3 separate regions of the Homo sapiens genome follow, and all the other regions are linked to region 3. Evidence: fine-mapped expression QTL. A gene starts in region 3. Each other region holds a variant in brackets. All regions are shown on one strand. Distances are between the middles of the regions.

What was found.
Region 1: its variant is fine-mapped to the expression of WDR45B in whole blood (Lepik 2017, PIP 0.92).
Region 2: its variant is fine-mapped to the expression of WDR45B in monocytes after LPS (Fairfax 2014, PIP 0.95).

Annotation. Positions count from the first base shown.
Region 1 is chr17:83,072,515-83,080,690 of GRCh38, forward strand. METRNL (meteorin like, glial cell differentiation regulator) reads left to right here and starts at 7,095. Exons shown (of 4, transcript NM_001004431.3): 1 at 7,095-7,471. The coding sequence starts at 7,302. The variant C/A (reference allele first, on the strand shown) is at 4,108.
Region 2 is chr17:82,610,889-82,619,038 of GRCh38, forward strand. WDR45B (WD repeat domain 45B) reads right to left here. Exons shown (of 10, transcript NM_019613.4): 8 at 6,408-6,509; 9 at 5,636-5,757; 10 at 3,674-5,137. The coding sequence ends at 5,031. Among named protein-coding and RNA genes, the nearest start is that of FOXK2-AS1, 27 kb to the left of the region's middle. The variant A/G (reference allele first, on the strand shown) is at 3,864.
Region 3 is chr17:82,643,489-82,651,650 of GRCh38, forward strand. It overlaps WDR45B (WD repeat domain 45B), which reads right to left and starts at 4,956. Exons shown (of 10, transcript NM_019613.4): 1 at 4,786-4,956; 2 at 461-535. The coding sequence starts at 4,852. RefSeq lists silencers at 4,409-4,458, 4,469-4,518, 5,119-5,188 and enhancers at 4,601-5,100, 5,479-5,548.

The sequences.
Region 1 (8,176 bases), 430 kb after region 3:
CATCTATGCGGGGAGCTGGTGCGGTGCGGGGCATGGTGGGGTGTGGGGGCTGGAGGGTGTGGGGCGGGGGCGGAGGGGGCTCAGTCATCTTTCATGAGCCTGAACTGAGGCCCAGGACGCACAGTCCACCATCCTGGGTCTGGACAGCGGGTCCCTCTGGGCCGTCTCACTTCCGCAAGCTTCAGCGGAGGCACAGCTCTGGCATTGGGGCTGCAGGGACCTCCTGGCACCACTGGGAGTAGAGTGGAGCCCCGGCACAGGCCTGGCCACCTCTCCAGGAGAAGGCACATGGGTCCTCAGGTCCCTGTTGGGACAGCTGGCGCCAAGGCTGGGCCCGCACGTTGCAGCAGGCAGGGTTGGGGTAGGGTGCTCAGCACCTGCCGTGTGGACGGGAGGGACCCCTCCACTCCCGAGGAGAAAGCCCACCAGCTGGCCTCGCTCCTGCCTGCCTGGAGGGGCTTCTGGAGGGAGTGTTTCCTCCGCCGAGTCCAGGCAGGCATGGCTGGAGGAAGAGCGTGAAGCCAGCATCCCTGGGTGACCCTGTGCACTCCAGCTTGGCTGGATTTGGGGAGGCACACCCAGGCCCTGCCCCACCCCCGCCTTCACTTGCTCGGGCCCCACCCCGCTGGGCCCCTATCTACTCGACACTGTGGGGGTCCAGTTCTCTCTCCAAGATCGGCCAAGTCCACGTGACCTGGCCCCCGGACGCTCCCTGCACGCCCAGCCCCACCGACACCCTTCCCCAAACCCTGGAGCCTGGGGACGCAGTGGGGTGTCTTGGCACACAGGTGACTCGGGAGACAGATCCCCTGACCCTGCCTGCCAGTGTGCCTGCCCACTGTCCGCTGAGCTGGGTGTCGCCTGCTTCTCCTCGTTCTGGGTGGGACCGTCTGTCCAAATGGCTGTCAAGGCCTTCTTCACTATCTCAGCGTGGGCAGAAAGGGACGGACATGTGAGACAGCTGCCCTGTGCCTCCAGCGCCCCCGCATCCCACGCACGCTCCACAGCCAGAGCTCTCAGCCCCTCCAGCTGGGGGCAGCTCTGGGCTACCCGGCCTCTTTTCAGGGGCAGGACAGCCGGGCTAATTACCTGCATGGGAGGGCCCCACTGGACAGGCTCCTGGTGAGGGTGTCTACCGCCACCCCCGCCTGCCTGGGCTGAGTCATCCAGGCGCAGCGTCGATGTGGGGAGGGCCTGTCCCTGGGGCTGTCCGTGGAGACTCGCCCTGTGGACTGGAGGAGGAGGCAGAACCCCGCCCGGCGGGGCAGGTCCTGGTGGTGACTGCGCCGACCACGGTCCCGCCCTTCCCCACGCGCTGGGCAGCTGCCCAGCCCGGTCCAGGTTAGGTGCCCCAGCATCTGGACGTCCACCCTCCCCGGGACACCCAGCCCAGTGGGGTATGGGAGGAGAGAGCTCTGTCTGCCCTCAGCTTCCTGCAGTGTGGCTACTCCAGCCCATCTGACCCTGGGCGGTCCCCGGTTCCCGGCTTAACAGATGTTGACAAGGCCTTGCCTCCTTCGGGGTGGTGCCAGGGGCAGAGGGGCACAGCAAGAACAGGGCACAGCCCCTCGCACACCCCCACGTGCCTCCGCTGTCGGCAGGCCCCACTGGGGTCTGGGAGATGCCTTCCTGTAGCATGAAACCAAAGGCCACAGAAGCAGAGAAAAAAAGCTCTTCGTTTCGATTATAAACTTGCAAGAAAAAAGGAGCCCAAACTGTTCAGTGAGACACGCCGACCGATCTGAGCCCACGAGGAGCCCCAGGCAGCAGAGCCCCCTCTTTCTGTTTATTCTAGAGGGTGGCCAAGGTGGCCCTGGGAGAGGTGCCTTCCAGAATTCAGATGCCAGTGGGGCGGGCTGCCAGGAGGGCCACGGAGCGGGGCTCTGGTCTCTGATGCCAACCAGTGAACCCTGGGAGGGACCACCCTGTGCCCTGCCCAGCCTGTCAGAGGGGGCCCAGCCCGGTGATGAGCAGTCAAGTGTGGGGCCCACGGGGAACAAGGCGGCGTGCATTTACTCTATGGAGGGGCACCGTCTCCACACGGCAAGCTGGGTGTGCCGACGGCGCTGGATGGCACCATACGTTGTCCCCGTTGAGGGGTGACTCCTGCTCCCATGATTAGGGCCAAAGGGTCACAACCTCTGCAGCTCCCACGTGGCTCAGGGGAAATGCCAAAACAGAGGAACAGCCCTCGGCCGCAGCCGGGGGATGCGTGGGTGCCCTGCACACTGGCCTTCAACGTTTGTGAGTTTCAGGCCTTCGGTAGTTGGCATATGGGACACTCCCTCTCCCCGCAGGCCGTGGGGATACCGGCTCCTTCCGAGGCGTTTCTGCCGTGAGCGTCCTCCAGAACGAGTGGGCTGAGGCCCTCGGCTGACGTCCTGGGTGACCGCAGACCTGCTGTGTGTGGCCGGCCGGCCGGACCTTAGCACGTCATCACTGGGCTCACGGTCCTGCCCCTGAGCACATCTGACCGGCCGTGGTCAGGGTCCACGCAGACGTCCACCTCTGTGTACAAATCCACCGTGTACTGTAGATGGCCCCTCCTGACACCACCCCGCGGAGGCCGAGGACCCTCCTTCCCTGTGGGGTCTGAGTGCCCGAGATGGCAGAGTCACTACAGCTCACCAGCCCTGGGGCCATGGTCGGTTCATGGCCGGGCGGAGGGTGAGATGCTGCCATGAACAGCTGCTACAAACAACTGCTAGGACGGTGTGGGGCCAGCGTGCCACACAGAACTGTCTCTCACTGCCGAGCTGGCGGCTGGTGGCCTCTCTCCACCTGGCCAACCTGGGGGCAAGCACCACCCAAGGTCACATAGCCGGCCAGCATCGGCCTGGACTTGTATCTGACTCAAGGAAACTCCCTACTCCCACTTTTCTCTGACGCACAGAGAGCAGCACATGGCAGCAAATTAGGTTAAGGAGGGGGTTAGGGAAGAATGACACACTGAAGGTCATCAGGTGGAGGCTGGCTGGCATCCGTGGCTGTTTCGTGTAGTAATTACACGTTGCTCATTGAAGTTGAGTTACAAGCACAGGCTCTCCATGTATCATTCAACCACAATTACGATAATTACGAGAAGGTTGGCGAAAATGGCCTGGGAGGGAAACGGGTGGCAAATGACTTGGGAGGTGGTGGTTGGGCGGGGCCGTGGGATGAACTGTGCTCACGTGAACGACAGACTGCGACGTTCTTCAGTATTTTTCAAATGCTGAAAGAGAAAATTTCATGGACGCGCTTGGGGAAACCGTGTGATGTTTTTCTGGAGGAATCCAGCTACTCTGGGAGGAGCTGTTTCTTTAGTGAGTGGATTCAGGTGACTGGTCATCTTGGGCAGCACATTGGCCGTCAACACACATTTGAAAACCTCAAGACTGGGCCAAAAATAAAAGCAGTAAAGTCCACCGGGTTGTGCCAGTGGCTCAGAGAACTCGCAGCTGTGGGGAGCACGGCGGGAGGGGTTCCCCCCACCCAGCCCCATGAGGGCCCCAAGGCCTGATGACAGCCCGGTGGTGCCTTGAACAGGTGAGAATCAGCCCCCACCTGGGGACGTGGCGTTGAATCCTGACATCGTAAACCCTACGACGCCCTGGGAATCAAGAACAGATCCACTTTGCAGGTAACTGAGGCTCAGAAACAGACTCCAACCCCACCATGTCTGTGACCCAGAGCTGGGGGCTGACGTCCGAGCCAGGTCCGTCCACCACCCCACAGGGCCTGTAGGCACCCGGCATAGGAAAGGCCGAGAAAGGGGTCCAGTCCCACAGCCCTCCACCCCAGCAAATTCCCAGGTGCTGGGTCCCTGCAATGCACGCGATAAAAACTCCCGGGTCAAATACACAGAGGTGACCCTGCCGAGGTCACTCGATCCTAACAGTGGGTCGTGGTCCTCGGACATGGGAGGCCACGTCCTGCTTTCTGAGGCCTCAGACCCTGGTGAGGCACAGAAGGACTGTCCAGGGTGCACCCAGAATTTTTTTCACGGACGTCTGCCCAGGAGGCTTCTGAGAGCTGTTTCTCGAGGGAATGGATAGATGAGGAAAGAGAGAGGGTTGATGTAGACCTACGGTTGGGCCACAGGCCCCCCTGGCCCAGGTCCCTTAG[C/A]TGCCATCTCCCAGGATGCAGAAGCATCACTGCAGGGCCCGCCGGTAGAGGGAATGGGCAGGCGTGATCCTGGTGGGTTCTGGAGCTCTCCGATTCCACGGCTCAGCCTCAACGTTCCGACTCAGGTAGGAAGTATCAGAGCTTCACGCAAAGCTGCGAAGACCAGCTCCTTCCCACGAGTGGGTGGGTGGGATGATGCTGTGGCCCCTTCCTGGGTCTAACCCCGTGACATGCTCACTGGGAAGCAGTCCCTTCCCAGACATCCAGGGACAAACACACCCAAGGCCCTTTCCTTGCAGACCCTCCCAGAGGACCAGGGGGAGGGCCACACACCATGACCAGCTGGGATCCTTTTGGTTCATAATCGGCCTCTCGGGGTCTGGTGGTACAAGGGGCAGTGTACCAGTGGCTGGGAACACCCCCAGACAGCCTTGACCACCTCAGCCTGCATCCTCTAGGAGCCTGATACCTCCTGACACCAGGAACCCCGTCTACAGGGGACGTCTCACCTGTAGGTGGCCTCGCTGGGCCAGGACAGGGGTCAGCAGAGGTGCCCAGGAGCACCCAATGTCTCTGGGGCATGAACCTCCTCAAGGGAACAGCTTGGGGAACCACAGCCCCAGGGTGGAAAGGGCCAGGCTCCTTTCCCAAGACAGATTAGCTTCTTCCGAGAATACTGGCCAGCAAGCATTCTTACTCTAGTTTTGTTTTGTTTTAATTAGCAGACTTAATGTTTTAGGTTTACAGAAACACCAAGCAGATGGTAGAGGTCCCCCACACACCCTCTCCCTGACCCAGTTTCTCTTATGATTACCTTCTCTCATTAGGGTGTAGGCGTGTGACAGTCAAAGAACCAATATTGATCCGTTATTATTACAAATGTCTCAAGCCTCCATCAGGATTCACTCTTGTGCTGTATTTTCTACGGGTTTTGAAAAGTACACGTGGGTCCCATACTCACCATCGTACGATCCCAGTCTTAGGACAGCCCGCTGGGCACAGGAGGCTGGGCATCCTGCCAGGTGGCAGATCTCTGCCCCAGCCTAGGCTGGAACCAGCTGCCTGCTGACCAGAGGCGGCCTCTCCCCTTCGGTCTAGCAGCCACCAGGGGCTCTGAGACCCTGAGCAGGTCACGGCAGGTCCTGAGTTCCCCATGTCCGCATCTATAACTCAAGAGATCCCAGCACTGCCCTGCCTCTTCCGTGGTGTGATGATCTGGACCCTGATAGGCCATGTGGCCCTTCAAGGGTGGACCGGGCCTGGGGGGGCTGCTATCTTATGCTTGGTGGGCATGGAAAGCAGTTGCTGCGCACAGGTGTGAAGCCGCAGGTCCCTTTCCACAGCAGGTCCCTTTCCACAGCAGGTCCCTTTCCACTGGGCACCCTGGTACCTGCAGTGATGGGGGTGGGGGGAGGTGCACTCCTAGAGCAGACGGGGGTGGGTGGGGCAGTCTCCAAGCTCCGAAATGCACCTCCACCAGACCTTGAGCCTCAGGGTGATGTCACTTGATGTGCTGGGCAAGGTCCTGGCTCCAGGCTTTCGATGGGGTGGGTGCTCTGAACAGATCCTTACAATGAAACTACCTTCAGTGGTCACTGTCATCGCCTTCCAGTTCTTCAGACCCTCACCCTTGTCCCAGCTTTCCTGGGCTGGGGGCTGGGCTCCACCTGCCTTTGCCGGTGACTTCCGTCCCTGCAGACTCACAATTTTCAAAGCCCTCTCCCCGCCTCCTCTGGTAGTCACAACCCAGTTATTCAGACTTGCACAGGTCGTTCGCAAGTCCTCCTGGAAGGTATCTTGGCTGGAAAAGGGGACAAGGCCAAGCTTCCCCACCGCTGGATGCTGCGCTCGGCTCTGGAACTGACACCAGGCGTCTCGGGCAGGGCCACTGACCCGCAGCACACAGAAGCCAGCTTTGCCATCGCAGCGGGGACCGCCGGGCGGGCCAGCTCCGCCCTCTCCTGCCTGGGGGGCCCTCGGCACCCTCTGGCTCCCCTTCTCTGGCCTGAGTCTCTAGGGCCTCCCCAGTCCGGGCGGGGGTCTCCGCTGTCCCCCCCACTGGGTCAGGCACGTGGTGGCCGCGGTGACCACCTGGGGAAGGCGCCGACTCCGAGGAACACACTCGAGCAGGACGCTCCGCAGGTGATTCTGCCCCGCGGGCACGGGGTGGGGGCGGGATTTGGCCAAATCTGCAGAGAGTTTAGGTTGTCAAAGCTGGGGCGGGGGTTGCTACTGATACCCAGAGTGCGGGGGCCAGGGTGCTGCCAACATCCCACCATGCGCAGGACGTCCCCACCCCAAGAACCACCCGGCCCCGCGTATCCGGAGCGAGGAGTGGGCAGCGCTCGGCAGAGGCCCCGGCGCGGCGGCTGCACGTCCTCCGGGAGGAGGGAGGGAAGCCGGGCTCACCGCCGGGCCTCCCCCCCGGTCAGGAGGGAGCCGGGAACTCCCGAGGCACCAACTCTGCGGAACGCGGGGCGCCCGGATCGCCCCTGATCACCGCCCGCTGGCGAGGCGCGGGGGACCCAGAACCGGCGGGGCCGGGAGCCTCCTTTACCGCTCCGCGCCGGGGCTGCCCGCAGGATGGGGCGCAGGATGGGGCGCAGGATGCGGCCCCGGCACCGCCTCGCGGGGGTCTGCGGGGGGCGACCGCGGCTCGCGTCGGCCACTACTTGGGGGTCTCGGGTTTCCGCCCCGCCCTCGCCTTGCAACCCCTCCGGCCCCGGACTCCGCTTTCCAGGCCGGGCTCTTCCCTCCGGACCCCGCTCGCCGCCCGGCGCGGCCCCCTCCTCCTGCAGCGCCCCCCGCCCCGGCGCCCGCGCCCCCGATTCGCTGCTGACTCGGTGTCTGCGCGTCCGGCCGGGCGCCCCGGGAGGAGTTTCCGGCGCGGGGCGGGGTCGGGGGCGGGGTCGGGGGCGGGGCGGGGCGGCGGGTGGGCCCCACCCCCCAGCTGAGCCCGGCCGGGCGGACTCGGACTCGCCAACTTCAGAGGCTCGGCGGCGGCGGCGGGCGCGGAGCTCTGCGCGCGGCTCCAGCGGGCCGGGATGGGCGGGCGGCCGCGCGGAGGACGCGGGGGGCGCGCGACGTGACCACCCGGACTCGAAGCCCGCCCCGCCCCCGCCCGGCTCGCCGGCTCCGGGGTCTGCTCCGGGGGTCGCGGACGCGGGGCCGGGCGGCGGAGCCGGCGCCAGAGCATGCGGGGCGCGGCGCGGGCGGCCTGGGGGCGCGCGGGGCAGCCGTGGCCGCGACCCCCCGCCCCGGGCCCGCCCCCGCCGCCGCTCCCGCTGCTGCTCCTGCTCCTGGCCGGGCTGCTGGGCGGCGCGGGCGCGCAGTACTCCAGCGACCGGTGCAGCTGGAAGGGGAGGTGAGTGTGCGCGGCGCGACCCCGGCCCGGCCCCCTCCCCTCGCGTCCCCTCCCGTCCCGGGCCGGCCGAGCGTGCGGGGGCGCGGCCGGGGGCGGGCGCGGGGCAGGGGCTCCGGGGGCCGCTCTCCAGGCCCAGTCCGGTGCCCGCTGTCCCCCGCCCCCGGTTCTAGAACAAAAGAGCCCGCGGCGTCCCGGTTCCCGGCCCGGAGGACGCCCGGGGGAGGCGCGCCTGCAGCGCGGCCGGGTGGGTCCCGGCTCCGCGCGTGTCCGAGCCTCGGGGGCCGCCGGTCCCGCGACCCCATCCCGGGGGCAGGCGGGGGTCGGTCCTCGGGCCCTTCCTGGCAGGCTCCGGGAGTTGCGCGCCCCGAGGCCGCCCCGGGCCAGAGCGGGAAGGGACGGCCGCGGGAGGGAGCGGCGGTTTCGGGGATCGGGCGCGGACCGCAGCGGGGGCCACTTCCGTCTCGGGGAGCCGCGGGCGGGCACCTGTGAGCCGGGCCGAGTGTGGCTCCGGCCGGGCCCCCCGCCCCTGCCCCGTGAAGGTCAGGCCGCCCTTGGCCGCGGCGCGCGCTGCGCTGGGCGACCCCCCCCCCCCCCACCCGCGGTGGCGGCCGAGGACTTTTTTTTTTTTTTTTTTTTTTTGACTCAAGCGTGGCCGCCGAGAGCGGCGCCGACCGCGACTGCCCCTCGGGAGCCGCCGCCGCTCCC
Region 2 (8,150 bases), 33 kb before region 3:
TGTAATCCCAGCTACTTGAGAGGTGGAGGCAGGAGAATTTCTTGAACCCGGGAGGTGGAAGTTGCAGTGAGCCGAGGTTGAGCCACTGCACTCCAGCCTGGGAGACAAAGCGAAACTCCGTTTCAAAAACAAACAAACAAAACATAAAGAAATTAGCCAGGCATGGTGGTGCATGCCTATGGTCCTAGCTATTTGGGAAACTGGAGCAGAAGGATCACTTGAGCCCAGGAGGGCGAGGCTGCAGTGAGCCTTGATTGCACCCCGGCACTCCAGCCTGGGTGACAGAGCCAAAAAAAAAAAGAAAAAAAGAAGCACGGCTGGGCACGGTGGCTCACACCTGTAATCCCAATACTTTGGGAGGCTGAGGTGGGAGGACTGCTTCAGGCCAGGTGTTCAAGACCAGCCTGGAGAACACAGACACCGTCTCTACAAAACAATAACAAAAATTAGCCGGGCGTGGTGGTGCACGCCTGTAGTCCCGGCTACTCAGGAGGCTGAGGTGGGAGGATCACGTGAATCCAGGAGACAGAGGTTGCAGTGAGCTGAGATTGCATCACCACACTCCAGCCTGGAGTGAGACCCTGTCTCAAAAAAAAAAAGGATAGGCAGCTGTCGTATATGCTGATAATGGTAAAAATAATGTGAGACATAAGTTCAAGTCCCTTGTGCAAATACTGAAACTGAGGTAGAAAAATGCTGATTTTCTGGAGTTACACTCTGCTATCAAGGTCAGGAGGACACCCTTTTCCACAGTATCTGGCCAGATCCTTGCCTGTTTTTTCCACATACCCGAGAGAGATTAGGAGATAATTAGCCCTCAGCTCGCATGCCCCAGAAGCGTCGTCAGACTCACCATCTGAAACATCTTACACAGATGACAGGCTTCTGGCTGGCAGCCAGCATGGACAACTCAAGATGGGGCCGCAGGTGTCTGTGGGAGGCTCAGAGCAAATGTCGGGGGATTCACGGCCTCTACAGACGGTGGCGTCTCTCTTGAACAGAGCTACAAAAGAAATGACATTTCACTAGATGCCACCTCAGTCTCAAGTCTACATTTGCTTTTGTTAAAACCCATTGTATGTCTACATTTTGGTGGATGTTGCGTAAGACAAATCATTTTAAAATTAATGCCAAAACCACAAAATCACTAACCTGATACGAAATTCCAGAATGCGGCAAGAATATTACAAGCTAAATTAGAAATAAGAATCCTCTATACATATACATCCAAAAAAAAAAAAAATCCCCAAGTATTAGTAGAATTCTTTTTTTTTTTTCCTGAGATAGAGTCTCTGTCACCCAGGCAGGCGTGCAGTGCTGCGATCTCGGCTCACTGCAGCCTCCATCTGCCCGGTTCAACTGATTCTCCTGCCTCACGCTCCCAAGTAGCTGGGACTACAGGCACGCGCCACCACGCCTGGTTAATTTTTGTATTTTTAGTAGAGACAGGGTTTCACCATGTTGGCCAGGCTGGTCTCGAGCTCCTGACCTCAGGTGATCCACCCACCTCAGGCTCCCAAAGTGCTGGGATTACAGGCGTGAGCCACCGCGCCTGGCGAATTCAGCAGTATTTAAGGATAACACACTGTGACCAAGTGGGCTTTCCCACAGGACAGCAAGGTTGGCTCAACATTCAAAAATCAACGTGATGCTCCACGTTCACGGCGTAAAAGATAGGTGTGATCATCACAACAGATGCAGAAAAGTCACTTAACAAAATTCAACAGCCATTCCTAGCGGCAGGCAGGGTCACCCCCAAGTCCCCACTCAATAAAGGAAAATCAGGAGGCATCCTCCAAGAAGACCCAGATGCTGGAATCGGCAGACAAGGACTTGAAAGCGCACAGAGCGCGTACAAATGGGCAGACACAAGTCATCAGCCACGAATTAGAAACCAACTTTAGAACTGACAAATGTATCTGAAATAAAAAAGGCGGCCAGGCGTGGTGGCTGTAATCCGAGCACTTTGGGAGGCCAAGGTGGGAAGATCGCTTGAGCCCAGGAGGTGGAGGAGAAACCCCGTCTCTACCAAAACAATTTTTTAAATAAAAATAGATGTTACGTTCAGGTGTGGGGTTGTCTGAGAGTGATCTTCTCTGGAGGTAGAAACACGGGGCAATTTTGCTTACAAATTTATATTTTTCTATTATTTTATAAGGAACTTTTTTTTCATTGTATTCTCTGATCCATCTGGAAGAGAAAAATTTTGGTACAAGTTTCAACAATGTCATCAACCAAATGCCTCTGACACAACAGAAGAGAGATGAGGACTAAGTCACGTGAAAGAGCTCTGGCATTCAGGGGCTTGGTTTGGTTGCAGAAAGAAAACACAAATATAAAACTCTTTGATCACAGAAGGCTGCAGATGGCCAGCGCCCCCGACTACAGTGGTGGGAGCGGGAGGTGGCCAGGGGTTCACACAGGCATCAACGCCAAACACAGGGTGGGTATGGGTCAGGGCTGCGTTCCACAGGGCACAAGCCGCCTGTCCCCGCAAGACATCCCAGGGCCACAGGGGAGGGAGGACAGACCAGAAACGCAGCCGGAGTCATCCATGCCCACGCACCTGTACGATCAGACAGGAAAGCTGCTGAGTAGGCACCGTCTGAGGCAGTCACTCTGGAGTCCCTTCGCACCCACGTCCGGGGCACAGGAGGTTCGTGGGGGAGGCAGCAGCCCGGCCTTGTTTCCCATACACTGCGCTTCCCATCAGTTCCACTTGAAAAGCAGCTGCGCTCCCGAGTCCGCCGGCCTAGGGACACCGTGTCCTTGCCGCTCTACAGTGATTTTTAAAAAGCACATGCCTGGGGAGGGCCGGTGCCGCCAGGGCCTCACATGAGGCACGTCCGTGCAGGCCCTCGCCACGTTCCTGGTGAACGGGCCTGTGACACAGCCCCGCCGTCCGCATCAGTTCTGAGGCTGTTCACGTGCACTGCGAGAAAACCCACCCTTCTTGCATGCATTTCCCCCAGATTCATGTTTATCAACTGGTAATTACGCTCCTACTCCCCCACCCAGAGTCAGATCTCAAGTGTTAGACAAGCCAGGGTGACGCCGGCTCACTTGAAGCTGCCACTTCAACATGCAGGGACATTGCTGCTGCCAGCCACCCTCCACCTCCACAGGCCAGCAGGAGCCTCAGACCTCCCAGAGCCACACAGGCCTCCTACAGATGCATTTCCTCCCTCCCTCCTCCAGAGGTGCCCTTGGGGCACAGGGAGAGAGGAGGGCAGGCCGCCCCGTCCCGACACAGGGAGAGAGGAGGGCAGGCCGTCCCATCCCCGACACAGGGAGAGAGGAGGGCAGGCCGCCCCGTCCCGCCACAGGGAGTGAGGAGGGCAGGCCGCCCCGTCCCGCCACAGGGAGTGAGGAGGGCAGGCCGCCCCGTCCCGCCACAGGGAGTGAGGAGGGCAGGCCGCCCCGTCCCGACACAGGGAGTGAGGAGGGCAGGCTGTCCTGTCCCGACACAGGGAATGAGGAGGGCAGGCTGTCCTGTCCCGACACAGGGAGTGAAGCTCCAGGCTCCGCACCCAGTGACCCTGGCTTCCACCTTGTCCTGTCACAGGCCGGCGCCTCTTCAGGCCCACAGGCTGTTCTGAAGCCTACACTCCAACCAGATTCTCACAGCAAGGGGAAGAGTGTTTGGCTTCATAACACACAATTCTACTTCCCATTACAGGTCCAGACTACAACAAAATTAGTCACTTTTATTTAAAAGAAACATTACAAATAAGTGTGCAAAATTAAACATCATGATTAAATACACATGAAAGGAACATGCATACTTTACAGCAACATCCACAGAGAATTAGCTGATTACATGACAGTGACAGTAAAGAACTAAAGAAACCGGCAAAACCGAG[A/G]ACTCGCTGCTATGCAGGTTTTACATGTTTGCAATCTGAAATCAAAACCATAAAATAGAGTTTAACGGGAATTTAAGAAAATTAAATATATATCCCAAGTAGCTGACAATGTAGAGCCCATAACCTAGTTACCAAATGTTAAAAAAAGTTATGTGCCTCTCCTTCCCAAAATGTTAGTGTGTAGCTATTCTTACAAATGAGGGGAGGGGAGACGGTGGACCTGGGGGCTCGGAGGCCAGACCAGGGCATTTCCCTCCACACCAGCGGGAACTGCATGGACCCTCCCAGACCCTGCTCTGGCAGACGACCCCGAAGTTAAAGGATGTTTTCCCCATAACGAATGTTCAAAGTTCGTGCATCACTCTGCTGTTCCCTACACATAACCGGGAAACAGGTTTAATCCAAAATGTAACCAGGAGACCCCCCGTCCCCGCCCCGCACACGCCTGAGGTGTGACGGCTCGGCTTCTAGAGTGGCCTGGTGTCTGCCTCATTCTAATGGCCCCAACGGAGACGGGGACGCCACGCACGGGCACAGGTGACGTCACGGGCACAGATGACCACGTTGCGGGTACGGAGAAGACCACAGGCTGGGCTCACACGAGGGGAAACATTCACACTGTGTTCTCTCTACAGGGTCAGGTCATTTTTCTTCATGTTCGGGCGGGAAAAGGAATTCCTTTCTCCTTTTCTAAGGCAAGCTGCTGGTGTTGTATTCAATCTGCTTATCATGTAAGAACTTACATCTGCACACTTGTTCACTCCCCCGCTGCAGACTCAGTAAGAACGACGGAATCTGCTGCAAAAACAAACCTGAACTCGTCCACCCTCTCAGCCCAGTCCCCAGGTCCGTATGGAGCCCCCGTCAGTGTGAGGATGCGGCGGAGCCACTGAAGCTAACGTCACAGCTGAACTCATGGGAACAGCCAGTGGCCGCCAGTCGAGCTGGTCACAGCCACTGAGTTACCTACGGTGCCTTGATGATGATTCTCTCTTTAATACTGGAAATGGGAGTCCTTAGGAAAGCAGACAACCACGTATGGCTTCGAGACCAAGGTCCCTGGGCAGCCCCTCCAGCCCGTGGCCCAGGAGGCCCCTGGGGCACTGGCACCAGCCCCGAGAGTCTGAAGGCGGCAGGTGGTGGGTGCTGTGGCGCCCCCAGCTGGAGTCACAGCTTGTCATCGGTCATCTCTAGAAACTGCGCGTAGACATCTCGGATGCACTCCCCCTTGGGGTTGAACAGGAATTTGTAGTAGCTGCCGTCTGCACAAATTGCTGGGATAGAAGGAGACCATTTTACCTGTGTGTTTCTTTCCCTCAAGTTAAAAGCAACGAGTCCCACTGAGCTGAACTGCAAAGGGCCTCTTGGAGCCAGGCAGCTGCTCTGAAAGCCCTGAAAGGCCCCAGGGTCCCCACTGAATGCGTTCGGTCGGCACCGTGGCCGGGAATCCTGACTGTCTTGGTGTGAGCATCTAATCACCCGGTGTTGGCTACAGGGTTAAGAAACATTCTTGGTCATCTATACAAACATTGGAAGACCTGTCCCTGTGATTTCCTGGGGGAAACTGGAGGGATGGGGGCTGAAGACATCCCAAATGGCCGTGCAGACCGTAAGCGGGACACACTGAGCCCACAGGAGAAATAAGGGGAACTGGGCGGCCATCGGTGCCACAGCGCGGTGCTGGGACGTCCATGGGAAGTTAGGTCTGACGCTCAGTGGATGGAGCCCAGGTGGGGCGGGTGGGGACGTTCTCTCCAGGAAGGACCACTCACCAATGACGGCGTTTGGCTCTGTTCCAAAGGCACAAATGCACGGAGAGCCTGAGGGAACCTGAAACTTGGAGAAACTCCACTTGGAACTGAAGTATTTTGGAAGGAAACTGGCTGAGGCCAAACTGTGAAGACAAGAAAAGAAAGGGTGGTTCAAAGTTTACAGGAAAAAAAATCACCTGCGTAAGCTCAGAATACGCTGCTGAAAATACGAAAATGCTCCTTCATATGGTTTGAGCTTTAATGAATTTTTTTTTTGCCATGCATGACAAAGCCTGTTGTACAATTTTATTTAAAAAAAAAATTTTTTTTTTTGAGACGGAGTCTCGCTCTGTAGCCCAGGCTGGAGTGCAGGGGCGCAATCTCGGCTCACTGCAGCCTCCACCTCCCGGCTTCAAGCGATTCTCCTGCCTCAGCCTCCCGAGTAGCTGGGACTACAGGCACCCGCCACCACGCCCGGCTAGTTTTTGTTTTTTAGTAGAGATGGGGTTTCACCATGTTAGCCAGGATGGTCTCGAACTCCTGACCTCAGGTGATCTGCCCACCTCGGCCTCCCAAAGTGCTGGGATTACAGGCATGAGCCACTGTGCCCAGCCTGCACTGATTTTTAAACCCCAACAAATATAAAATTAAATGAAAAAGATTTCAGCGCTGATAGCATATGAGGTCTGTCCACACCACCCTGCTGGGGTGGGGGGCCTGTCCCGTCCACACTGAAACACTGGGGACTCCTCTCATCCCCCGGCTTTTCCCCAGCAGGCATCCTAACACCTACCTGGACTGTTTATTCCTTTTTGGATCTTCAGCTGCAAAAATATGCACTGTGCCGTGGTCGCTGGATACGCAGATGAGGGACGCATCCTGATTGAAGTTGATGCTGCAGAGAAAACCAGCACAGCTCAGGCCTTGTGTGGATGTGGAGGAGTCCAGAGACTTAACCCACAGCACTTGTCGACACTGTGGAACACCTCAACATTCCCACTCTGGAGGTGCCAATTCTGAATACTGCCCTTTCTTTAACAAGCCGACAACCATCCCCACAGCACCACAGGTTGAAGCCACAAAGCCACAGCCACAATCCAGTGTATCACGGCAAGTTTTCCTTGGGTGCCCCACAAATGCAGCTGATGAGCTGTGTGTCTGGGAGAGGGAAGGGACTTCTTGCAGACCACACCCCCAACATGCCGCTCAGGGCTGCTCTCACAAGACTCGGGTGAGAAACACACATTCTCTCCAATGATCCTGGCCTCAGGAAGGTGCAGGCTGCCCCTATGGAGGTCAGCTGGGCTGGGGCAGGCATTGGCCGTGTGCTGTCTGTTCTAGGAGCAGACAGGGATGTGCTATGCACACCACAAGGCCCAGGACCTCACAGATAAAGCTGCCGTATTTATAAATTAATTACATTTTCTTTCTTTTTTTTTTTTTTGAGACAGAGTCTCGCTCTCTTGCCCAGGATAGAGCGCAGTAGCACGACCTTGGCTCACTGCAACCTCCACCTCCCAGGTTCAAGCGATCCTCCTGCCTCAGCCCTGCCTAGTAGCTGGGATTACAGGCACACGCCACCACGCCCAGCTAATTTTTGTATTTTTAGTAGAGATGGGGTTTCGCCATGCTGGCCAGGCTGGTCTCGAACTCCTGACCTCAGGTGATCCACCTGCCTCAGCCTCCCAAAATGCTGGGATTACAGGCGGGAGCCACTGCGCCCGGCTATATTAATTACATTTTCATCTCAAAGACCCAAATGCTGCTCAATACTAGCCAAGGGGGAGGCACCAGGCCTCCTGGCCGTGGCCACAGGGCATGAGATGCTACCCAAGTAGGGCTTCAGCACTAGACACCCGGGGGGCTGTAGGGACACCACTGTGGGGCGGCAGTGTGGCCTCTCAGACTGTAACAGGCTGGAATCAGACAAACCAACATGGTCTCCAGCATTGCCTTAAACACAAGCCAGAGCGCTGGTGACGAGATGAAACTGGCAAAAACACCAGAAAGACTAAAAATAAACAGGGATGAACCCAAGCCCGCCAGCCAGGGCAGCAGCGAGACCCCTCTACAAAAACACAACAATTAGCCGGGCGTGGTGGTGCACAACTGTGGTCCCAGCTGCTCAGGAGGCTGAGGCAGGAGAATCGCTTGGGCCCAGGTCGAGGCTGTAGTGAGCTGTGATAGCGTCACTGCACTCCAGCCTGGGCGACAGAGCAAGACCTTCCCTCAAAATAAAAACCCCAAAAAAACAACAAAAAAAACCCACCAACAACAAAAACCATCAAATACTAATAAATGCTGAAGCAGGGTTAATTATGACATTCTTTCTACTTCTGTGTAATTTCCCACGATAAAAACTTAAAGTTAATCACAATTTAAAAAGCTGAAACCCAACCCCCTAGCAGCCCAAGCTTCTCCCTCCTCTGGCCTTATTCGGGGGAGGGTGGCTGCTCCTACCCCCTCTCCCAAATCCCAAAGGCCCACTTCCGTGCTGTCAGCCCGAAGTTCTTCTCCGGTGAAGTTGGAGGTGCCC
Region 3 (8,162 bases):
TCGCACAGCAACCTGGTAAAGGGCAGAACCAGGACTCAAACGTACACAGCATGGATGCAGGCTGAGGAAATGCACCCTGACTTACAAAATAAACTCCCAGACATAAAGCACCACTTACTGTTCTACATCCCAGGGTTACAGGTAAGACTTTACTTGAAAAGAGGTTTCTGCTGCCAAAAATCCCTGATGTGACAGGAAAAGGCACAAGAAGTTCATGCTGATCGATAATTCACTAGAGAAATCAGGCCAGTGAACAAACCTGCTCAACACCTGTATCCCTCAGCACCTGTAGAAGCTCAACGAAAGAAAGAGGACAGCTCCCTCCAAGTTTATGAGGGGCCATGAACCCTATTTACTTCTCGAAAACAGCCATCCCTTCCCTGCTCCACCTGCAAGGTTAAATTTAAGACTCCGAGGGTTGGAAAGGGGAGAAACCAGAAAATGTCCCGTTAATTCTTACCTTGTTTCTCTTTTTCTTTTAGTGGATCAGTGTTATAGACTCGGAATCCATTTTCCATCCCACACGCAAAGCATCCTAAAGCAGAAGTGTAAAAGAGACATTAATCCCCAGGCCTGGAGTGGTTAAAAGAAAGAGGTCTGGAGAAATGACAACTACTGAGAACTCTTGCAGATGCTCAAACCACACAGACACGATAGGTGCTAAGTCACAACTCCTGTCCTTGTACAAATGTTACTAAGTGACAAGCACATCCATGCAGGGCATTTTGTTTGTCCTTTAGCAAAGGAGTCTTGGAGTTGTTCACACAACTTCCCCACTGCAGGGGCCTTCTGTGGCATCCCCATGGCCCAGGCTTGGAGGACGATCAGTGACAAACGTGAAGGACACTTCTAGAGGAAAGCCACCAAGCAGGCAATCCCGCCCACTGTGGACACCAGGTGAAGGGAAGGGCAGGGTGCTGGGGAGACAAGAGGTAGTCCTAGACTCCAGGAACCGGGAAGGTGAGGAAAGGATGCTCTTTCCCATTTACAGGGTGGTCTCCCGTGACTTTGCTCCCACCTATAAATCATCCTAACTCCTTAAAATCCTGTCAGAGTCTCAATGAGTTACCCAGGTCACTCATCCTGGTCACTGCCTCCAAGTCACACAGCAGGCTGTTAATGGTCCAAATAAACAGCACTGTTAGAAACTGAATAAAGCACTTAAGTGCGTAGATGATCGTGTGTTAATGCTCGTGTGTGACCCAGGGACTACATCCATCTCCTTAAATGCCATGTCCAACTGTTGGCTCTATGAAGCTGTGGCTGGAAAGAGAAAAAAACAAACCCCTCAATTATTTTTCACATGAAATGTTGCAAAGTCTGGATCTTTCCAATGACTGCACAAGTGGTGTGAAAGCCCAACACAAAGGCCTCTAAAACTCCCATTTGAGGCCGGACGCAGCAGCTCACGCCTGCAATCCCAGCACTTTGGGAGACCGAGGTGGGCGGATCACCTGAGGTCAGGAGTTCGAGACCACCCTGGCCAACATGGTGAAACCTACCCTCCACTAAAAATACAAAAATTAGCCAGGCATGGTGGCATGTGCCTGTAATCCCAGCACTTTGGGAGGCCAAGGCAGGTGGATCACCTGAGATCAGGAGTTCGAGACCAGCCTGACCAACACGATGAAACCCCGTCTCTACTAGAAATACCAAAAAATTAGCCAGTCGTGGTGGTGAGCGCCTGTAATCCCAGCTACTCAGGAGGCTGAGACAGGAGAATCACTTGAACCCAGGAGGGGGAGGTTGCAGCGAGCTCAGATCACGCCACTGCACTCCAACCTGGGCAACACAGCAAGACTCCGTCTCAAAAAAAAAAACAAAAATAAAAAATAAAAATAGAAATACCCAAACCACCTCCTAGAAATCCACAAGAAAAAGGCAAAATCCTCAATAGAAAAATGGGCAAAAGACTTAGACATGTCACAAGAGGATATCCAAGTGGTCAAGAAACACAAAATCAGGAAAATGCAAATAAACAACAGAGAGATGTACACAGCCACCAAAATGACCAAAAATAAGAGAAAACATCAAATGTGAGCTGGGTGTAGAGCCATGGGAACTCTTAGACCTGCTAGTTGAGGGCAAAGTGGTACAACCACTTTGGAAAACTATTTGTACTATCTACTATACTCTCAATTCTACTCCTAGGTATATAGAAGTACATGCCTGTGGAAATGTGAACATATGGTCACTGAGAGACATCTTCTAGATTAATCATTACTCTTATTACTCATATTATGCTTATGGTAGCCAAAAACTGGAACGTACCCAAATGCCCAACCATGGTAGACTGGATATATGAATTGTTGTATGTCTGCACAAAAGAACATTGTACATCAAGAATGATCTGGCCGGGCACGGTGGCTCACACCTGTAATCCCAGCATTTTGGGCAGCCGAGGTGGGTGGATCACAGGGTCAGGAGATCAAGACCATCCTGGCTAACACGGTGAAACCCCATCTCTATTCAAAATACAAAAATTAGCCGGGAGCGGTGGCGGGCACCTGTAATCCCAACTACTCGGGAGCCTGAGGCAGGAGAATCGCTTGAACCCAGGAGGCAGAGGTTGCAGTGAGCTGAGATCACGCCACAGCACTCCAGCCTGGGCAAGAGCAAGATCCGTCTCGGAAAAAGAAAAAAAAAAAGATCTACAACTATACTCAACAATACGGAAAAAAAAAATCACAAACATGATGTTGAGTAAGAAACCTAGAAACAGCCTGGCGCCGTGGCTCACGCCTGTAACCCCAGCACTTTGAGAGGCCGAGGTGGGCGGATCACCTGAGGTCAGGAGTTCAAGACCAGACTCAACACGGAGAAACCCAGTCTCTACTAAAAATACAAAATTAGCCAGGCATGGTGGTGCATGCCTGTAATCTCAGCTACTCGGGAGGCTGAGACAGGAGAATTGCTTGAACCTGAGAGGCGGAGTTTGCAGTGAGCCTAGAACGCGCCATTGCACTCCAGCCTGGGCAACAAGAGCGAAAACTCCGTCTCAAAAAAAAAAAAAAAAAAAAAAAACCCAAAACAAAAAAACAGCTAGAAACAAAAATAAGTACAAAAATAAAGTACAGAAGTAGGCAAAACTAATCTATGATGTCACAAGTCAGGTAGGGAGCATTTATTGGAATCAAGCGTGGCCAGGTATATTCAATTTCTTAATTGTTAGTGACAGGTGTGTAGTTTGGAAAATTCATCACCTGAACACTTATGATATATCCACCCTTCTACAGGTATAGCACACTTCACTAAAAAGAAGGCATTACAAACACCAGATGGTTGGAAACCACCCTCTGAGAAGGCTAGGCATCTCCCTTACCATCTCAGCAAAACTTTCTTCCGGAGAAACCCCAGCACACAACCCTGGGGAAGCTGGCAGCGCCCAGGAAGCCTGACTGGTCCCAGGGCATCAGGCATCAAAATCACTGAGAGGGAGTTCTTTCAAATATGTGTAATCCGGCCGGGCGCAGTGGCTCACGCCTGTAATCCCAGCACTTTGGGAGGCCGAGGCGGGTGGATCACCTGAGGTCAGATTGAGACCAGCCTGGCCAACATGGTGAAACCCCGTCTCTACTAAAAATACAAAAAGTAGCCGGGCGTGGAGGCAGGCGCCTGTAATCCCAGCTACTCAGGAGCCTGAGGCAGGAGAATGGCGTGAACCCGGGAGGAGGAGGTTGCAGTGAGTCGAGATCGCACCAGGCTGGGCGACAGAATGAGACTCCGTCTCAAAATGAAATAAATAAATAAATAAAATTGTCTTCACATATACGGGATCATACAGCACCTGCCTGGATTCTCTTCAAAAACAAAACTTCCAAAGCCAACATGTAAAGCCTCGCAGAAGCCTGTCTCGGAATAACGGACATTCCTTTTCCTCCCCATCAGGACCTTTGGGAAGCGCGCCCTTCAAATGGGAGGTGAGGAGGCAACCATCCGAATCCAGGTCCCGCCCGCCTCCCGCGGGAATCCGACCGCGCCGCCCCGGCCGCATCCCCCGCAGCTCCGAAGCACCTGCGGGGAAGGAGGTCACCTTCCCTGGGCGCTTTAAATCATCCAGTGCTTACACCTGGATTCCGACATGGGAAAAGAAGTAAGATTTCCCTCAAAGGCCTCCCTTAAGTCCTTTGACTCCACCAAACACGAAGAAAAATCCCGGGGAGTGGGGGTGGGGAGAGTGACATTTTCCGATGGAAACCGACGGGAAAGGTGAGACCTGCACCCCACCCGCGCCACTCGCCACCAGAGGCGTCGGAGACGCCGGCTCCGCGGCTCCAGTAAACCCAAGCGAAGTCAGCTCAGCCACGGGCTACCTACTAAAGACCCTGAAAGGAACAGGGGGCAAAACGGGGTTCTGGGCAGGGCGTCAATCACGCTGTGGGGAAAATCCCGATAACCGTGGAGCCCGCAGGGAGCCAGGGAACCCGAGTGGGCGTGGCGCGCGGGGAGGGGCGTCCGCGCAGGAGGCTGGGGTTCTGTGCCGTCTCCCACCGACCTCGACCTCGGCCCGGGACGGCCGGCTGGGAGCGGTCACAACCCGGGGGGTGGGGGAGCGCGAAAGGCCAGGAAGGTGGGAGCCGGTTCGGGCCTGGTCCGGACCCCGGCTCGGGCTGGGAGCAGCGGCGAGGGCCGGGGCCGGGGGCTTCGGAGGGGAGCTCGGGCGGGGCCGGGGTCCCGGGTGGAAGGCCTGGCCGGAAAGGGGCGCCCAGGAGAGGCCTGAGAGCCGGGGACCCCGGGCTGCGGGAAGGCCCGGCCGGGCAAGGCGACAGGGCCGCGCCTCCTCACCGTGGTCCTGGTTGAAGCCGGCGTAGAGCAGCCCGTTGCCGTGAGGGTTACACGGCAGGAGGTTCATGGCGCCGCCGTGCTGGGTCGCCGCTCCTCAGCGCTGCATGCCTCTCGCTGGGGACGGCGGCCTGGTCCCTTCGGGCCGGCGCTGAGGCCGCCGCGGCCGGAAGTGCCGGACGTACGTGCGTGCGTGCTGGATGTGCGTGTGTGCTGGACGTGCGTGCGTGCGTGCTGGACGTCCGTGCGCGCGCCCGCGCCCCACCAGGGAGCCTATGGAGCGCCGAGCGCATCTAACCGAAGCGAGGCGAGACGAGGCGAGGCAGGGCGGGGAGGGGCGGGGCGGGGCGAGGCGAGGCGAGGCGAGGAAAGGCGGGGAGAGGCAGGGCGGGCGGGGCGGGATGAGGCGGGGAGAGGCAGGGCGGGCGGGGCGGGATGAGGCGGGGAGAGGCGGAGCGAGGCGGGGCGGGGAGGAGGGGGCGGGGCGGGGCGGGGCGAGGCGAGGAAAGGCGGGGAGAGGCAGGGCGGGCGGGGCGGGGCGGAGGCGGGGAGGGGCGGAGCGAGGCGGGGCGGGGAGGAGGGGGAGGGGCGGGGCGGGGAGGGGCCAGGCGGGAGCGCAGAGCACGTTCGCGGGAGGGTCTGGCCTTGTCATGCGCGGGGTCGCCGCGGGAAGGAGGATGGCCCGTTGAGGGCTTGGCACGGATACCTGACGGTCGGAGGAAGGGGGGAGAGCCGGTAAAGGAGGCTGACCCAAAACTGAGGCCCGGTGCATCATCCCTCATGAGAGGCAAGCCCAGAAGCGCCACAATACTAGGGTCCCCCTTCAGGAGACAGAGACCCCCAGGACACAGAGGGCCCCCAAGTCACTCAGCCCCCCCAGGACACGCAGCTCCTGCAGGACGCAGAGGGTGCCCAAGACACACAGTCCCCAGGACAGAGACCCCCCAGGACACAGAGGACCCCCAAGACACGCAGTCTCCAGGACACAGAGGTCCCCCCAGGACACACAGTGCCCCCAGGACACAGAGGTCCCCCAGGACACAGCACTCCCAGGACACACAGCCCCCCCGGGACACAGAAACCCCCCCAGGACACAGCCCCCCTAAGACACACAGCCTCCCCCAGTACACAGAGTCCTTTCCAGGGCACATATTCCCCCAGAAGACACAGAGGTCCCCCTAAGACACACAGCCCCCCCAGGACACACAGACCGCCAGGTCACAGAGACCTTCCCAGGACACAGGGACCTTCCCAGGACACATAGCCCCCCAGAGGACACACAGCCCCCCCACGACACAGCCCATAGAGGACACAACCCCTTAGTACCCCACCTAAAGGACAGGTGGCCCTCACACAGCACAGCCCCCGCAGGACTCCGGGACCCTCAGGTCACATTGCTCACAGGGCACAGTTCTCAACTCTTAGGGTCAGGCTGCTGGGGGCATCCTGGTCACAGAGCTTTGTCCCTGGGCTTGGCTCATGCAGTGGATGGCTGTGGAGGCCTGAGTGCTGGCCCTCGTGTCTCTTGCCCAGGGAGTCCTCTCCACTCCCCCTCCTCACTTTCCTGTCCCCTCCTAGGCTCTCCCTGTTCCCTGCAGCACACCTGATCTCCTAGGAGGTCCTGACACTGTCCCCTCGCAGCCACCTGCCTCCACCCCGTCTGTCATCCTCATCCCACCCTCGCCACTTGCCTGAGCTGGTGCTGACCTCTTAGCCATGGGGAGGAAGGAGCTGGACTGTAAGCTGAGATCACTGGCCCACTCGGGCCAGGCGGTCTCCGCATCGTGGGCATTGAACACCTCGATTCCCATACGAGAGGGGCTCCTCCCTGAGAGCGACCAGAAGCCTTCCGATGGCGGAGCGAGTTGGGCCGCCCCGGCTGTGACTAGGGCTCGGGGGCCCAGGTCCAAATCACAGAGCTGGGGCGAGACCTAAGTGCGGTCCAGGGGCTCAGCACCCTCTTCCCTGAAGGGCACTGGGTTCTCCTCTGTGCACACGTACCGGTACCTGCTGTGAGAAGTGTCACGTGGGGGAAGGAGAGAGGCGTGGGTAAGGGACATTTCCCTTCATTTCTCTGCTTGCCACCCTTGGGGCCTCCTTCAGTTCACATTTTACTCAGTCTCCCGGTGGCTGTACAGCCGGGGGCGGGGGCATGTGTGGACATCCACACACAGCGCTGGTTGTATCCTAACCAGGAAACTCAAAGCAGCCTTGCCCACCACAGTGCGTTGAATGGTGACCCTCTAAAGATGTGTCCTGGGGGGCTGAGGAGGGAGGATGGCTTGAGCCCAGGAGATTGAGGCTGAGGCTGCACTGAACTGAGATTGTGCCACTACACTCCAGCCTGGGCAACACAGCAAGACTCTGTCGCAAAAAAAAAAAAAAAAAAAGATAGGTCCACCCAGAACCTGAGAATAGGGGCTTCTTTAGGTAAAGAATCATTGCAGAAGTAATTAAGGATCTCGAGATAAGATCATCCTGGATTTGGGGTGGGCCTTAAAGCTGGTGACCGGCACCCTTGGAGGAGACAGGAATGGAGGAGATACAGGGGACAGCAGCCAGTGGGACTGGAGTGCTCAGCCCTAAGTCAGCAAGTGCAGGAATCGTGGGGTCACCAGGAGCCGGGAGAGGCATGAACGGTTCTTCCCCAGAGCCTCCCAGCCTGGGAAGGAACACAGGCTGTTGTCCAAGCCACCAGCCTGTGGGGCTTTGTTCCAGCAGCTCCAGGAATCCCGCCGTCCACTGATAGCTCAGAGGTCTCCACGTGGAAGACCTGAAGTGTGACTTGGAGTGAGGGACACGGCTCATCTCGCCCACCCTTCTCCAAGGCAGGCAGAAAGCAGAGTCTCACCTCTGGGGGTGGAGAGAATAGAAATTATACACACACACACACACACACACGCATATATATGTATTTATATATATATGTATATATCTCCTGGGCTCAGGAGATCCTCCCACCTCAGCCTCCTGAGTAGCTGCAACTACAGGTACACACCACTATGCCAGCTTAATTTTTTGTATTTTTAGTGGAGACAGGGTTTCATCATGTTGCCCAGGCTGGTCTTGAACTCCTAGGCTCAAAGGATATGCCTGCCTCAGCCTCCCAAAGTGCTGGGATTACAGGCGTGAGCCGCTGTACCTGGCCTAACGATGTATTGTTTAAAGATACAACATATTTGGACACACATAAACATATAAAGAAAACCAGGAGGATGGTTTGCACAGAATTGGAGATGGTGGTTACCGCTCGGGGCAAGAGAAGAATCTACAGTAGGCCGGGCGCGGTGGCTCACTCCTGTAATCCCAGCACTTTGGGAGGCCAAGGCGGGCTGATTGCCTGAGGTCAGCAGTTTGAGACCAGCCTGGCTAACACAGTG